Homo sapiens: one gene and its partners. The protein of the gene in region 2 purifies or fractionates together with the protein of the main gene of each other region. This does not show direct contact. Each region holds a gene or a part of one and is shown on either strand. Other genes may lie near its edges. The genes, in order: MNAT1, NCAN and LIG1.

Region 1 (3,651 bases), on a different chromosome or scaffold from region 2:
TATCCAGCTGAGATATCAAAAATGCCTCAACTAAGAGTAAGAACCACATCCTAGAATAAGGCATATTCTAGGTGCACCCTAACAAAGACTAAAATCAAGCCCCAACAAGTTTTTGAAGGGATTAAAAATGTGAGGTTGAGTTACACTAAAGTAAGGAAACAATGGGTTCTCCACATATCATTCTAGCAAAGAGTAAAACCAAGCCTACACAAGTTCAAAGTTATCTGCCAGTAACTGAACTACCTGCAAGAATTTTTAAAATCAACACTTTTCACAAAAATACAAAATCCAGAATCTCTATAATATACCACCTACAATTAAAAAGTAGTAAACATGCAAAAATAAATAAGCAGAAAACTGTAACCTACAGTCAAATAAAAGCAGTCAATAGAAACCAACCCTGAGATGGCTGGGCGTGATGGCTCACACCTGTAATCCCCGCACTTTGGGAGGCCGAGGCACGCAGATCACTTGAGGTCAAGAGCTTGGGACCAGCCTGGCCAACAGGGCAAAACCCCATCTCTACTAAAAATACAAAAATTAGCCAGGCATGGTAGCAGGCACCTGTAATCCCAGCTACTTGGGAGGCTGATGCAGGAGAATCACTTGAACCTAAGAGGTGGAGGTTGCAGTGAGCCAAGATCATGCCACTGCACTCCAGCATGGGCAACAGAGTGAGGCTCTCTCAAAAACACAAACAAAAAAGAAACCAACCCTGAGATAGCCAAGGAGTTAACTCTTACAGACAGAAACCTTAAGATTGACTATCATAAATATTTTAAAGGAATTAATGGAAAATATGTTCAAAAAATTAAAGGAAAATGCATTCAAAGAACTAAAGAAAAATATATTCTTGATGAGTATATAGATGGGAAATATCAGAGAAATGAAAACTATAAAAAAGATAAAAATGAAAACTCTACGACCAAAACAATACAATAAGAAATGAAAAATCTATTGGATGAGATTAGAAATGGCAGACAGGCAACAGTGAACCTGAAGATAGATCAATAGAAAATATATAATCTAAAGAACAGGGAGAAAGAGATATGAGTAAAATTAACTTCTCAACAGAAACACTAGAGAACAATGAAATGATATCTTTTGTATGGTCAAAGAAATGCCAACCCATAATTCTATATTCAGCAAAAATATCCTTCAAACACTAGGGTGAAATAAAAACACTTTCTTATAAACAAAATCAGAGTATATTCTTCACCAACACACCTACACTATAAGAAATGCTAAGGAGCTGGGCGCAGTGGCTCACGCCTGTAATCTCAGCACTTTGAGAGGCTGAGGCAGGCGAATCACCTGAGGTCAGGAGTTCAAGGCCAGCCTGGCCAACATGGTGAAACTCCATCTCTACTGAAAATACAAAAATTAGCCGGGCATGGTGGCACACACCTGTAATCCCAGTTACTCAAGAGGCTGAGGCAGGAGAATCGCTTGAACCTGGGAGGCGGAGGCTGCAGTGAGCCGAGATTGTGCCATTGTACTCCAGCCTGGGCGACAGAGCAAGACTCCGTCTCAAAAAAAAAAAGAAATGCTAAAGAATGTTCTTTAGGCAGATGGAAATCAATATGACTATAAAATCAGATCCAAAGGAAGAAGGGCAATATCAAAGATAGTAAATAGGTGAAAATAAGAGACTATATTTCACCACTTCATACCCACTAGAATGGCTATAATCAAAAGACAACTATAACAAGCATTGGCAACTACATAGAGAGACTAGAGCCCTCATTCACTGCTATAAGATGGTACAGCCACATTGGAAAACAAACTAAACAAAGAGTTACCATATGATCCAATAATTCTACTCCTAAATATATACATGAGAGAAACAAAAACATTTGTCCATACGAAAACTTGTACATGAATGTTCACAGCAGCATTATTCATAACAGCCAAAAAGTAGAAATGACTCAAATGTTCTTCAACTGATGAATGGATAAAATGTAGTATAGCCATACAATGGAATAATATTCAGCAATAAAAAGAAATGTTGTACTCATACATGCTACAACATGGATGAACCTAGAAAATATTACACTATGTAAAAGAAGCCAGTCCAGAGAACCACATACTGTATGATTCCATTTATATGAAAGGTCCAGAATAGGAAAATCTACATAGTCAGAAAGTAGATAACTGGTTGCCTAGTGCTATGGGAGGGGGGAGTTGAGGAGTGTGACGGCTAAGTGGTGAGAGGTATCTTTGTGGGGTAATATGTACATCTCTGAGAATATACTAAAAGCCATTGAAACGTACACTTTAAATGTGTGAATTTTATGGTACGTGAATTATATTCAGTGAAGTAGTTTTTTAAAAACATACCTTTCCTTAAAGACAACTGACTGTTTAAAGCAAAAATAACAACAAATCACAAATACAAATAAAAGATATGCTGAAAGAAACCACTAATAATAATAATAACAATGAGGAGTTAATTGTTGGCCATAAAAGGTGACTGTAATCCCAGAACTTTGGGAGGCTGAGGTGGGTAGATCACTTGAGGCCAGGAGTTTGAGACCAGCCTGGGCAACACAGTCAGAGACTAGCTCTACAAAAAAAAATTAAAAATTAGCTGGCTGTGGCAGTGCACACCTGTAGTCCCAAATTCTGGGGTGGCTGAAGTGGAAGGATCCCTTGAACCCCTGAGTTCAAGGTTGCAGTGACCTGTGATAAAGCCACCACACTCCAGCCTGGGTGATAGAGTGAGATCCTGTCTCTTATTTAAAAAAAAATAAAAATAAATAAAAAATAAAAAGCTACCGGCTAATAGGCCAATACTTTAAAAAATCCAATTATTTCAAAATAAGGCAGGAAAGGAGCAAAAGAACAACAAAAAAACCAAAGGAATACAAGGAAACATGTAGACTTAAACCCAATGATATCAATAATTAGATATAATGGACTAGTACACCAATTAAAAGGCAGAGATTGTCAATCCAGATAAAATGGCAAGACCCAGTGAAGTAGAGTCTCCCAGAGACAGACACAAATTGGTTGAAAGTAAATGGATGGGGGCCAGGTACAGCAGCTCACTCTTGTAATACCTACATTTTGGGAGGCCCAGGCAGGAGGATCACTTGCGCTCAGGCGTTTGAGACCAGCTTGGGAAACATAGCAAGACCCCATCTCTACTAAAAATTAAAAAAAAAAAAAAAAAAAAAACCCCAGGCGCAGTGGCTCACGCCTGTAATCCCAGCACTTTGGGAGGCCGAGGCAGGAGGATCACGAGGTCAGGAGATCGAGACCATCCTGGCTAACACAGTGAAACCCTGTCTCTATTAAAAATACAAAAAATTAGCCAGACGTGGTGGCCCGTGCCTGTAATCCCAGCTACTCGGAAGGCTGAGGCAGGAGAATGGTGTGAACCTGGGAGGCGGAGCTTGCCGTGAGCTGAGATCGCGCCACTGCACTCCAGCCTGGGCAACAGAGCGAGATTCCATCTCAAAAAATAAAAATAATAAATACATAAATAAATAAATAAGCCAGGTGTGGTGCCATGCACCTGTAGTCCTAGCTACTCAAGAGGATGAGGCAGGAGGATCATTTGAGCCCAGGAGTTTATGATTGTGCCACTGATATTACATGGGTTAAAAAATTTTTTTAAAGTAAATGAACGGAAAAATGCACACTATC
Region 2 (3,651 bases):
TCAAACAAACAAACAAAAAACAACTGGTTATTCTCATCCTTAAAGGCATGCAAACTAAGATAACAATGAGATACTATTTTTCCCCACTTAGATGAACAAAGAACAAAAGTTTAAGAATGTGCAGAGTTAGCAAGGGTGGGAGGAAACAAGCACTCTCATACGCTGGTGGAAAGTGAGAACTGGCTGCACTGACATTTACCAACTTAAAAAGATGAAGGCGAGGTGCAGTGGCTCATGCTTGTAATCCCTGCCCTTTGGGAGGCCGAGGTGGGTGGATCACCTGAGGTCAGGAGTTCGAGACCAGCCTGGCCAACATGGTGAAACCCCGTCTCTACTAATAATATAAAAACCAGCTGGGCGTGGTGGCATACGCCTGTAATCCCAGCTACTCAGGAGGCTGAGGCAGGAGAATCACTTGAACATGGGAGGCAGAGGTTGAAGTGAGCCAAGAGCATGCCTTTGCACTCCAGCCTGGACAACAAGAGCGAAACTGTCTCCAAAAACATAAATAAGTAAAAACAAAATAAGAATAAATTAAAAAAATAAAATATAATCCCACCCACCTTGGCCTCCCAAAGTGTTGGGATTACAGGCATGAGCCACCCCGAGCGGCCTATTTCCAGAACTTTTTCATCACAACACACCAAAATTCTATACCCATTAAGCACTAGTGACTCCCCCTTCTCCCAAACCCTAGCCCCTGGCAAATACTAATCTACTTCTTGTCTCTAAATTTGTGTACTCTGAATGCTTCATGAAAAAAAAAAATGAATCAAGGCTGGGCACAATGGCTTATGCATATAATCCCAGCACTTCGAGAGGCTGAGACAGGCAGATCGCTTGAGCCCAGGAGTTCGGGACCAGCCTGGGCAACATGGCAAGACCCCATCTCTACAAAAAATACAAAAATTAGCTGGGCATGTTGGTGCATGCCTATAGTCCCACCTACTCGGGAAGCTGAGGCAGGAGGATGGCTTGAACCCAGGCGGTGGAGGCTGTGATGAGCCATGATTATGCCACTGCACTCCAGCCTGGGCAACAGAGAACCAGTGAGCAAAAGTGACAGAGAGGAAAAGAAGCAGGGGGCACAGCATACCTGTGCCCTTCTTGCAGACATAGGGTAGGTTGTAGTTGCAGGGGACATCGTTCCAGCGCCCGCTTTCATGCGCCACCATCACCACACAGTCCTCGCCACCCGCGAAGAAATTGTCCGGCTGGTTCTCTCGCCAGTTCTCAAATTGCTGCAGGAATAGGGGGCAGGGAGTTGTTCAGGGGACCTCTGTTCCAGCCCAGGTTCTGGCAATTCCTGCTGTGGGACTCCCCTGGCCAGACCCCTCAAACTCACAGGGATTCAGTGTTCCCATCTCTACAATGGCCACTGTCCTGCCCATCCTGACGGGGGCCACCACTGTAATCCAATACACCATTCCTCTGGTTTGGAGGCTGCAGCATTCTCCTCCCTGGTCCTCCTGCCTCCCTGGGTGCCCGGCCGCACCCAGTTCATTTTCAACATGAATCAGTGTTAGATAAGTGGTGGGACAAGGCCAGGCCTGGTGGCTCATGCCTGTAATCCCAGCACTCTGGGAGGCCGAGGTGGGCGGATCACCTGAGGTCAGGAGTTCAAGACCAGCCTGGTCAATATGGTGAAACCCCATCACCACTAAAAATACAAAAAATTAGCCAGGCATGGTAGTGGGAGCCTGTAATCCCAGCAGGAGAATTGTTTGAACCCGGGAGGCAGAGGTTGCAGTGAGCCGAGATTGCGCTATTGTACTCCAGCCTGGGTGACAAGACCGAGACTCTGCCTCAAAAAAAAAAAAAAAAAGGAAAAGAAAAAGAAAAAAGATACATGGTGGGACAAATGGTGATCTCAGCCCGAAGTCCAGGAGGACTTCCCTGAGGAGGCAATGTGAGAGTTAAAGAATCAAAGATAGTAAGGATTCAAGGCCGGGCTCAGTGGCTCATGCCTGTAATCCCAGCACTTTGAGAGGCCAAGGGGGTCAGATCACTTGAGGTCAGGAGTTTGGGACCACCTTGGACAACAAGGTGAAACCCTGTCTCTCATAAAAATACAAAAATTAGCCGGGCATGATGGTGCGCGCCTGTAGTCCCAAGATACTCGGGATGCTGAAGCAGGAGAATCCCTTGAGCCTGGGAGGCAGAGGTTGCAGTGAGCTGGGTTGCATCACTGAACTCCAGCCCGGGTGATGGAGTGAGATTCTATCTCAAAAAAAAAAAAAAAAAGATAGTAAGGGTTCAGACAGGGAACAGCATTCCTAGCAAAGGGAACCACCAGTGTGAAGGCTCAGAGGCAGGACTGAACTTGTTCTGCTTGAGGAACAGACAAAGCCCAGTGGGGCTGGAGCTGCGTGATGGGGCTGGGGTGTGCTCAGAGAGTAGAGAGGGACCAGATCTTGCATCAGAGAAAAGGAAGTGAATTTTTAAAAATTGTGGCAAAATATATATAGCGCAAAATATATATAGCACATAATTCCTAATTTTAACCATTTTTGTTTTGTTTTGTTTTGTTTTGTTTGAGACAGAGCCCAGGCTGGAGTGTAGTGGTGCGATCTCGCTCACTGCTACCTCCGCCTCCCAGGTCCCGGTTCAAGCAATTCTCCTGCCCCAGCCTCCTGAGTAGCTGGGATTACAGGCATGCGCCACCATGCCCAGCTAATTTTTGTATTTTCAGTAGAGATGGGGTTTCACCATGTTGGCCAGGCTGGTCTTGAACTCCTGACCTCGCGATCCACCCACCTTGGCCTCCCAAAGTGCTGGGATTACAGGCGTGAGCCACCGCACCTGGCCAATTTTAACCATTTTTACGTGTGCAGTTTATTGTTATTTTTATTTTGTTGAGACAGAGTCTCTATTATCCAGGCTGGATTGCAGTGGTGCTACCTTGGCTCGCTGCAACCTCCGCCTCCCGGGTTCAAGAGGCGGTGTGCAGTTTAATGCACTAATTACATTCACAATGTTGCATAACCATCATTGTTATTTCCAGAACTTTTTCTTTTTCTTTTTTTTTTTTTTTTTTTGAGATGGAGTCTCTCTCTGTCGCCCAGGCTGGAGTGCAGTGGCATGATCTTGGCTCACTGCAACCTCCGCCTCCCAGGTTCAAGCGATTCTCCTGCCCCAACCTCCTGAGTAGCTGGGATTACACGTGCACGCCACCACGCCTGGCTAATTTTTGTATTTTTAGTAGACACAGGGTTTTACCATATTGGTCAGGCTGGTCTTGAACTCCTGACCTTGTGATCCATCCACCTCAGCCTCCCAAAGTGTTGGGATTACAGGCCTGAGCCACCCCGCACAGCCTATTTCCAGAACTTTTTCATCACAACACACCAAAATTCTGTACTCATTGAGCACTAGTGACTCCCCCTTCTCCCGACCCCAGCCCCTGGCAAACACTAATCTACTTCCTGTCTCTAAATTTGCCTACTCTGAATGCTTCATGAAAAAAAAAAATCATACAACAGCTGGCCTTCTATGCCTGGCTCATTCCACATTTTGTTTATTATTTTATTTTATTTTATTTTTGAGCCGGAGTCTCGCTCTGTCTCAATTTTTGAATTTTTTGTAGAGATGGGGTTTCGCCATGTTGCCCAGGCTGGTCTCAAACTCCACAACTCAAGCAATCCACCCACC
Region 3 (3,551 bases), about 29 Mb from region 2:
AATACAATTAAATAAAATATTTGGTATGGCTGGGTGTGGTGGCTCACGCCTGTAATCCCAGCACTTAGGGGGGCTGAGGAGGGTGGATCGCTTGAGGCCAAGAGTTCAAGATCAGCCTGGCCAACATGGCGAAACCCCATCTCTACTAAAAATACAAAAATTAGCCAGGCGTGGTGTCACATTCCTGTAATCCCAGCTACATGGGAGGCTGAGGCAAGAGAATCACTTGAACCCGGAAGGTGGAGGTTGCAGTGAGCTGAGATCTCATCATCGCACTCCAGCCTGGGCAACAGAGCGAGACTCTGTCTCAAAACAAAATCAAAACAAAACAAAACAAAACAAATTCGCATCCTCTGTCATGCTGGCCACCTGTCAAGGGCTCGGGCATTGCAGGTGGCCAGTGGCGGTCACACTGCACAGAGCAGATAGAGAAGACGCCCACCACTGCAGGCAGTTCCATGGCTGGCACTGGCTCTGGCAGTTCCTAGGCCATGGCTACATGGCTACATGCTATGCAGGTGACACCCATGACAGCTTTGCCCCCAGAGCCCAGCACAGACCCTGTCACAAAGTAGCTATCCAATAATTATTTATTGAAAGAAATGACGGGATGAATCCCAGACTCCGGAGTAAGCCACCCCCTCACACACACACCCCTCCCCTGACTCTCAAAATCCACAGCCTGCCACAGCAGATTTGCTAAAAAGCAAAGGCAATAATAACCCTGGGGTCCGTCCAACTCATGCCCTGTACCCAGGCCCTAGGAGGGCGAGGGCTTAGTAGGTATCTTCAGGGTCAGAGCCTGAGTCCTCGCCTTGTTGGTTCTGAATCTGACTTTGCTTCCGGTACAAACAGGCCACCTGCGGAGAGAGGGTGGGACGGGGTGGTCAGAAGCTCCCTGGCTGCTCCCACCTCCACAAGGTTCCAGAGAGGCCACCACGCTAAAAAGCTGGTAGGGCCAAGCAGCTGGGCGGCCCACCCCTGCTTCCCAGGACCTCACCTGAGCACTGGTGGTGGCCTGCTCCGGCTGCTTGTCTTCACGGACTCGAATAAACCGAGGGAAGCGAAGGGAGATGCCCTTGTCACTATCCACCTGCGGAAGCGGGATGGAGACTCCTGCGGTCCAGCCCCAGCGACCCCCTGCTCAGTCTCCTCCCTCCTCCACTCTGGACTGTTTCCTGATCCACATGACGGGGCCGAACGATGGGTTGTCATAAGGATTAAACAAGTTGACAAAGTGCTTGGAACAGTACCCGGGCACAGTAAGTGCTCAAGAAATGCTGCCTGTTGGCCGGGTGCGGTGGCTCACCCCTGTAATCCCAGCACTTTGGGAGGCCGAGGCGGGTGGATCACGAGGTCAGGAGATGGAGACTATCCTGGCTAACACGGTGAAACCCCGCCTCTACTAAAAATACAAAAAGAAATTAGCCAGGTGTGGTGGCGGGCGCCTGTAGTCCCAGCTACTCAGGAAGCTGAGGCAGGAGAATGGCGTGAATCCGGGAGGTGGGGAGCTTGCAGTGAGCTGAGATTGCGCCACTGTACTCCAGCCTGGGTGACAGAGCGAGACTCCAACTCAAAAAAAAAAAAAAAAAAATGCCACCTGCTACAGCCGTTACGATAATGACGGTAATTCGGGCTGAGAGGCTGAACTACGGCGCCAGGGTATGGGTTCTAGAATCTGACTGTGGGATTCCAATCCCAGCTCCCAACTCTCAGGAGCCGCGTGATGCAGGGGCAGTTACTCAGGCTCTCTAGGGCTCTACATCCTCACCGTAAAATGGAGATGTTTGTGTCACTACGTCTTACGGATTTTGAGAGGATTAAATGAGTGTCTATGAGTGACACGCTGATGACCACACAGTGCCCACTGCACAGCAAGGGCTGGATACACACCGGCTCCTGTGCCTTGTTACTAAGGGTCCCTGGCTGTCTAACGTGCAGCATGGTAAAACATTTTTAAAAATTAGATCAAAAATGTAAGTTCTTGGCTGGGCATGGTGGCCCACACCTGTAATCCCAGCACTTTGGGAGGCCGAGGTGGGCGGATTGAGGCCAGGTGTTTGTGACCAGCCTAGTCAACATGGTGAAACCCCGTCTCTACAGGCACGGGTCACCATACCCAGCTAATTTTTCTATTTTTTGGTAGAGGTGGGGTTTCACCGTGTTGGTCAGGCTGGTCTTGAACTCCTGACCTCAAGTGATCTGCCTGCCTCGGCCTCCCAAAGTGCTGGGATTACAGGCATGAGCCACTGTGCTTGCCCTGGGAATTCTTTTATTTAAGAAAAGAATTTTCTTTTCTTTTTTTGAGACAGAGTCTTGCTTTGTCACCCAGGATGGAGTACAGTGGTGTGATCTCGGCTCACTGCAACCTCCGCCTCCCAGGTTCAAGCGATTCTCCTGCCTCAGCCTCCTGGGTAGCTGGGACTACAGGCACCCGCCATCACACATGGCTAATTTTTGTATTTTTGGTAGAGATGGGGTTTCACCATGTTGGCCAGGCTGGCCTTGAACTCCTGACCTCAAGTGATCTGCCTGCCTCGGTCTCCCAAAGTGCTGGGATTACAGGCACGAGCCCCCATGCCCGGCCCATTTTTAAAGAAAAAATGTTTTGATCTTTTTATCTGACACTCAAATAAAATGCAAGCTCATCTTCCTGATCCTTACCTGGAAGAGCAGATGTGAGCCAAGGTCCCCTCCCTACTCTGCTCTCTGTGTGCCCGCCCAGAATCCCACACAGGGCCACGGCCAGGTCCTCTGCCACTCACCAGGCCCCGCGCAGCAGGGTAGATGGGAGAGAGGGAGAGGTCAGCGCACTTCACCTCCCACACAGCGCTGGGGTCCAGCCAGTGGTCGGGAATCACAGCGCCATCTATCCGCACGTAAGGGCGTGGGCTGGGCAGCACCAGCGCCTGCAGTGAGCAGAGGAAGAGAGGAACAGAGGGTCTGGAATCTCAAAGTCAAGGCCAAGTGTTGGAGGGCTGGGGAGAGGGAGGAAGGGAAAAAAACAGGCACCCCCTTGAAGTAAACAGAAATAGGAAGTGAAATAAGGGAAAAGAAACAAGACACCCCCTTGAAGTAAACAGAAATAGAAAGAGAAACAGAAAGTGAAAGAAGGGAAAAGAAACAAGACCCCCTTGAAGTAAAAAGTTGAGAAAGGTGGGAGTTGGGAGGAATGGGAGATGGAAAGAAATGAAAGGCCCTGGGGGCTGAGGCAGGACATTAAAGACAAAAAGAGGCAGAGAAAGGGCCAGAGACCTGGAGGAAGGAGACAGAGACACAGTGGGACAGGGACAGAGATGTAGAGAGAGAGGGCAATGGAGAGAGAGAACCAAAGAGTGGGACAGAGATGGTGTCAGGGTCCGTGTGTCCCCACCCACATCTTGTCTTGAATCATAGCTCCCAAAATCCCCATGTGTCGTGGAGGGACCTGGTGGGAGGTAACTGAACGATGGGGGCAGGTTTTTCCCGTGCTGTTCTCGTGATAGTGAGGAAGTCTCACGAGATCTGACGGCTTTATAAAGGGCAGTTCCCCTGCACACGCTCTCTTGCCT

The links.
Region 1: the proteins of NCAN (region 2) and MNAT1 fractionate together in Homo sapiens (co-fractionation; one large-scale study listed by BioGRID). This does not show direct contact.
Region 3: the proteins of NCAN (region 2) and LIG1 fractionate together in Homo sapiens (co-fractionation; one large-scale study listed by BioGRID). This does not show direct contact.

Annotation. Positions count from the first base shown.
Region 1 is NC_000014.9:60,741,188-60,744,838, reverse strand, and holds part of MNAT1 (CDK-activating kinase assembly factor MAT1), read right to left. Parts: intron 1-3,651.
Region 2 is NC_000019.10:19,242,903-19,246,553, reverse strand, and holds part of NCAN (neurocan core protein precursor), read right to left. Parts: intron 1,242-3,651; coding exon 1,097-1,241; intron 1-1,096. UniProt on the Homo sapiens protein: May modulate neuronal adhesion and neurite growth during development by binding to neural cell adhesion molecules (NG-CAM and N-CAM). Chondroitin sulfate proteoglycan; binds to hyaluronic acid.
Region 3 is NC_000019.10:48,114,873-48,118,423, forward strand, and holds the end of LIG1 (DNA ligase 1), read right to left. Parts: intron 2,910-3,551; coding exon 2,766-2,909; intron 1,094-2,765; coding exon 1,001-1,093; intron 861-1,000; coding exon 777-860; 3' UTR 573-776; downstream 1-572.